Regions from separate parts of the Homo sapiens genome. Here region 1 is linked to region 2. The links come from fine-mapping of genetic effects on plasma protein levels. A gene starts in region 2. The other region holds a variant in brackets. All regions are shown on one strand. Distances are between the middles of the regions.

Region 1 (2,500 bases), 63 kb after region 2:
GTGTGCATGTGTCTTTACAGTAGAATGATTTATAACCCTTTGGGTATATACCCAGTAACGGGATTGCTGGGTCAAATGGTATTTCTGGTTCTAGATCCTTGAGGAATTGCCATACCGTCTTCCACAATGATTGAACTAGTTTACACTCCTACCAATAGTGTAAAAGCGTTCCTATTTCTCCACATCCCCACCAGCATCTGTTCTTTCCAGACTTTTTAATGATCACCATTCTAACTGGCGTGAGATGGTATCTCATTGTGGTTTTGATTTGCATTTCTCTGGTGACCAGTGATGATGAGCATTTTTTCATATGTTTGTTGGCTGCATAAATGTCTTCTTTTGAGAAATGTCTGTTCATATCCTTTGCCCACTTTTTGATGGGGTTGCTTGTTTTTCTGTTGTAAATTTGTTTAAGTTCCCTGTAGATTCTGGATATTAGCCCTTTGTCAGATAGATAGATTACAAACATTGTCTCCCATTCTGTAGGTTGCCTGTTTACTCTGATGATAGTTTCTTTTGCTGAGCAGAAGCTCTTTAGTTTAATTAGATCCCATTTGTCAATTTTGGTTTTTGTTGCAATTGTTTTTGGTGTTTTAGTCATGAAGTCTTTGCCCATGCTTATGTCCTGAATGGTATTGCATAGGTTTTCTTCTAGGGTTTTTATGGTTTTAGGTTTTACATTTAAGTCTTTAATCCATCTTGAGTTAATTTTTGTATAAGGTATAAGGAAGGGGTCCAGTTTCTGTTTTCTGCATATGGCTTGCCGGTTTTCCCATCACCATTTATTAAACAGGAAATCCTTTCCCCATTGCTTTTCTGAGCCCAGGAATTTGAGGCTGTAGTATACACTGATTAGACCTATGAATAATCACTGCTCTCCAGCCTGGGCAACAAGACAGACCCTGTCCCTAAAAAATAAAAATAAATAAATAAATAAAAGTGGTGTTTTAATAATTTCAGACGGCAAAATATCCAACTGGATGAAAGTTAATGAAACTCTCCTGGTGGAACATCACTAGAGCACATAAATAAGTGACAGCTGTGAAAAGTTTGGTTTCAAC[A/G]GTAGGCTGGGCATTAGGACTCTATTGGGGTTGTTCATTTTAAGTTGTCACATTGTTTTGAGGGGAGGGGTGGGAGAGGGGGAGCTGTTTTGGTTTTTAGATATTCATGGGTCAATTACGTGCCAGGCTCTGTGTGACATGTCTTTCAGTCCACCCTAACAGTGAACTTACGTCTTCCTCCTTGTCCTCTAATATGAAAAAGCAGAACAAGTGTGTCTGCATCACATAAGACTTTTTTAAAAAGATGGTTTAGGAGAGCAACGACCCTTATATTTTGCTCTCTTTTATCTTTAGAAATTGCCTGTGTTCTACCTGTACTGATGGATGGCATACAGAGTCACCCCCAAAAACCTTTCTACACAGTTGGTGAGAAGGTGACTGTTTCCTGTTCAGGTGGCATGTCCTTAGAAGGTCCTTCAGCATTTCTCTGTGGCTCCAGCCTTAAGTGGAGTCCTGAGATGAAGAATGCCCGCTGTGTACAAAAAGGTGAGTGGCTTCCATGTCTATCCAAGGACACTTGTACCCAGGCAAGTGAGAGTCCTTGTGGCGACCTTCATGGTACTGTATCACCATAGCTGTGAGTCATTCCCTCCATTCTTGCTCCTTAAGATAGGGTCAGTTTGTAGACTGAGTAACAGATTTTCTTCACATGGCACAGAAAGACTCATGAAAGCAAGGAAAGGCAAGGATAGCCTGGTGATTCTGAAACTTTTAACTTAAATCATCCTTGTGAAAGATTAGCTTTATATCTGTTATGGTGCCAAGACAATAAAGGATTTTTAAAATCTGTTTTTTGTTTGTTTGTTTGTTTCCTCTAGATTTTTTTCCCCTGCATTTTTCATAAGTACAGAGTTGAGATCATAATTTATTTAAAGTTCTGTATGTTTCATTTTTGGGCTTTCAAAGAGTTTATCAGTATTTCTGAAATTGAAAATTTAGAAAGCATTTTCATTTAACACTTTAAAGCAGACATTATTGAAGGAAAAGTGTTGTGATTCATGAAATTGTTCTTAATGTGGAAACCCAAAAATCCAGTATTTTAACACCAAGAAAATTAAAATGGTCTTTTAAGAACCTAAGGTAGAAAGGATTTAGAAAGCCAAATTATTTCTTTTTAGAGGTAATTTTAGATGAGATAGATTTGTTTGACAATAACCCCTTATTTATTCTTTGTTTACATTTTTTAAATAAATGGAAAATATTGTATTTGTAACAAAAATGAGAATGAAGAAAAACTCACTTGCATACTATTTTATGTGATATTATCTCTCTAGTATGTGATTTTTAATTAAACGCTGAAATTTATTTTTAATAGTGAGGATGAAGTACTAGATTTCACAGGTGATGGTGTGAGGTGAATTAGATGTTTCTAACTAAGTTCTCCATGCGACAGGGTATGGAGCACTCAGATACTGATGGTAGATATGGGCTGTGATGTG
Region 2 (2,948 bases):
TTGTATTTTTAGTAGAGATGGGGCTTCACCATCATGGCTAGGCTGGTCTTGAACTCCTGACCTCAAGTGATCCACCCACCTCAGCCTCCCAAAGTGCTGGGATCACAGGTGTGAACCACCACACCTGGCTGGACTAACTCTTAATTGCAGAGTTCGTGTGCAATGTCTTTCAGAGTTCCTCATTAGAACTGAACTCAAATTGCCCACTGGAGTCTCTTGCTTGATAAAACACCCTTTATTGACTTTCTTTTCTCCCCAATCTCACTTTCCCACTTCCAGTGGTGCTTTCTAAGATTATCTCTTAAAACAAAAACAAAAACAAACTACTTGCAATTGAATTCTTGTTTCTGAATCTACTTCTGGGGGAACCCAAACTAAGAGAGCCGCTGAAATGGAATTGTATATTGAGAATTTAAGATGAGTCTATGGCATCTGGAATTTATGCAGTTGGAGCTGAATAAAAAATATTTCTTTCAGGAGTCAGGATCTTTGTCTCTGTGACAAAATTTCTTCCACACAAATCACTAAAGCTTTGAACAAAAGATGCGGAAGCTTTGTCTCTGGAAACCACCATTAATTTATGAGGGGAGGATAGGGGTTGTCTTTATTATTCCAGTGCTTTGGATATAGGAAGAAAAAGTCATTAAAGCTAGAAAATCTTCACTAATGGAATGTTTACTTATAAAATTATTCTTAACTCAAATTTTCTTTCCCGCTTAACATTTATTCTACCTCACTCATAATGCACTAGCAGCTAGTGTTAGAATATTTGGTCCAACAATACAAATAAAACTGTAGCTCAATTTTTTTTTTTTTTTTTTTTTTGAGATGGAATCTCACTCTGTCTCCCAGGCTGGAGTGCAGTGGTGCGATCTCAGCTCACTGCAACCTCCGCCTCCTGGGTTCAAGTGATTCTTCTCTCTCAGCCTCCTGAGTAGCTGGGACTACAAGTGCATGCTACCATGCCTGGCTAATTTTTTTGTGTTTTTAGTAGAGACGGGGTTTCACTGTATTGTCCAGGCTGGTCTCGAACTCCTGACCTCTTGGTCCGCTCGCCTTGGCCTCCCAAAGTGCTGGGATTACAGGCATGAGCCACCGCGCCTGGCCAACTGTAGCTCAGTTTCAATAGGAAATCTAAAATCTTGCAAAATAAGCAGCATTTTATTAAATGTATGAAGGTGATGTTGGGGACTTGCTAGAATCAATGCAAAGCTATGGGAAAATAAAGACCTGGTAGAATAAGACAAGATAAAAAGCAAAGGAGAGAAAATGGATGTGGATAATGACCCTGAGAAGAACTTTCCAACACAGTGATCTGATTATCAAAGGATTAAGTGAAGTTCTTGAGAAAATTAGTGATGTCCTCAAATATGTTTACAAAAATTGATATTCTTTCTGATTATTCTGTGAAAGTTAAGCATGAAGGGATGACTATTGGGTTGTATTAGGCTGTACTTTGGGGAAAAATTCTACTCCAGAACATTCTATTTAGATTTTGAGTGACAGAACTGCATTTAAATATTTTCTTTCATAAAATATTTAATCTCAAAGTCTGGCATATAACACCTTTTAAGAGAATCATGAAAACATCCACTTAGTTTAGTAGATTGAAACAAGAAGGAGGCTCATCCCTTGCCTTACAGAGTCTCCTTTGGTTGAAAATCACTTAAACATTGAACTGAGAACATTTGCTGTGTTTCCTGATTTATAGATATGTTTCTAAGAAACATATCTATAACTTCCAAACAGTCCCAGCTGGCTGTAGCTAAGGCTGTGTAATTGATAAGATGCATCTGGTTTCAAGGCACAGATTAAGTACAAGGTCAGGCTCTTGCTGTCGTTGGAGAATCCGGTTGGGGTAGGAGCTAAATCTCAGGACCACTTGCTCTATATATGAGTGCCAAGATAATCTAGAGCAGGGAGAGGCAGAGAGGCAGGCAGCCTGCTGGGCTCTTCCTGCTGTTGAAAACTTACCCGGCCCTTACAGAGGAAATCTTCCTCCTCTCTTCTGCCCTGAATGTTTTCCCAAACATGAAGGTAAGACAATAAATTCATTACTTTTGTAAATGAAGCTATCTTTTCAAATGAACGGGGGTAATATAAATGTAATTTAAACGAAGAGGTGTAATACCTAACTGAAAGACATCAAATAAATAGAAGGCCAGAGGAAAATACAGAAGAAAAAGACCTGGGGGTGATGTTTAGAAATCCTTATTTAAACATATTTAACAGTTCAGCCAAAGTGAATTCCTTTTTCTTATCTTGTGGTGAAATTATAGGTCCAGAGGTCTGGGAATCAGGAATTGGAGACAATGTTTATGAAAGTCCCGATAAAGTCATAAAGAAATACAATAGTACTATTGTTATTTCTTGGGAAAAACTTTCCTCTGGTGTATTTTTTTTTTTTTTTTTTGCTTGTTTGGATTAGGAGCCATGCAGTAGGGTCCTGCGATTTATCTAAGAGCTAATAGAAAAGCAAATTTGCAGGCTTGGAACTTGAGAATTTGAAATCCTGGATGAAAGAGTCAGCATTGTGAGAATAGAAGATATGAGTAGATGGAATAAAACTAAAGGTCTACCAAGTATACATGTTGGCCCAATGCAAAAAGGCCAAATATTAAAAAACAAAACAAAACACAACCAAAAAGCTATTCAACAAAAGATAAGACCAAAGATAGAAATCGCTATCATAGACTAAATCTCTGGAATGCAAAAATAAGTTGAGATTGCTATTCAAATTTTATTATTGTAAATTTTGGTATTTAAACTTTAAAAATGTTGCATTGTAAGACTGTAGGAATAATTTCACAGATCTGTCAGTGGCTAGATTGCTTCCATAGTCACTGTATTGTCCATTGGGGCACCGAATCCAAGCTCGCTCATTATTGGGGTTAGAGGAGGAGCAAGATATGGATCTTGATTAAGCCATGCCTTCTGTGAAATTAAAT

Evidence for each region. PIP is the chance, under the fine-mapping model, that this variant and not a neighbour inherited with it causes the effect. The UK Biobank Pharma Proteomics Project read protein levels with antibody pairs (Olink). The fine-mapping took linkage between variants from a reference panel, not from the people measured, so its PIPs are less certain.
Region 1: its variant is fine-mapped to the plasma level of the C7 protein (UK Biobank, PIP above 0.99).

The regions. Positions count from the first base shown.
Region 1 is chr5:40,971,048-40,973,547 of GRCh38, forward strand. It overlaps C7 (complement C7), which reads left to right. Exons shown (of 18, transcript NM_000587.4): 15 at 1,356-1,547. Among named protein-coding and RNA genes, the nearest start is that of C7, 63 kb to the left of the region's middle. The variant A/G (reference allele first, on the strand shown) is at 1,062.
Region 2 is chr5:40,907,580-40,910,527 of GRCh38, forward strand. It overlaps C7 (complement C7), which reads left to right and starts at 1,918. Exons shown (of 18, transcript NM_000587.4): 1 at 1,918-2,037. The coding sequence starts at 2,032.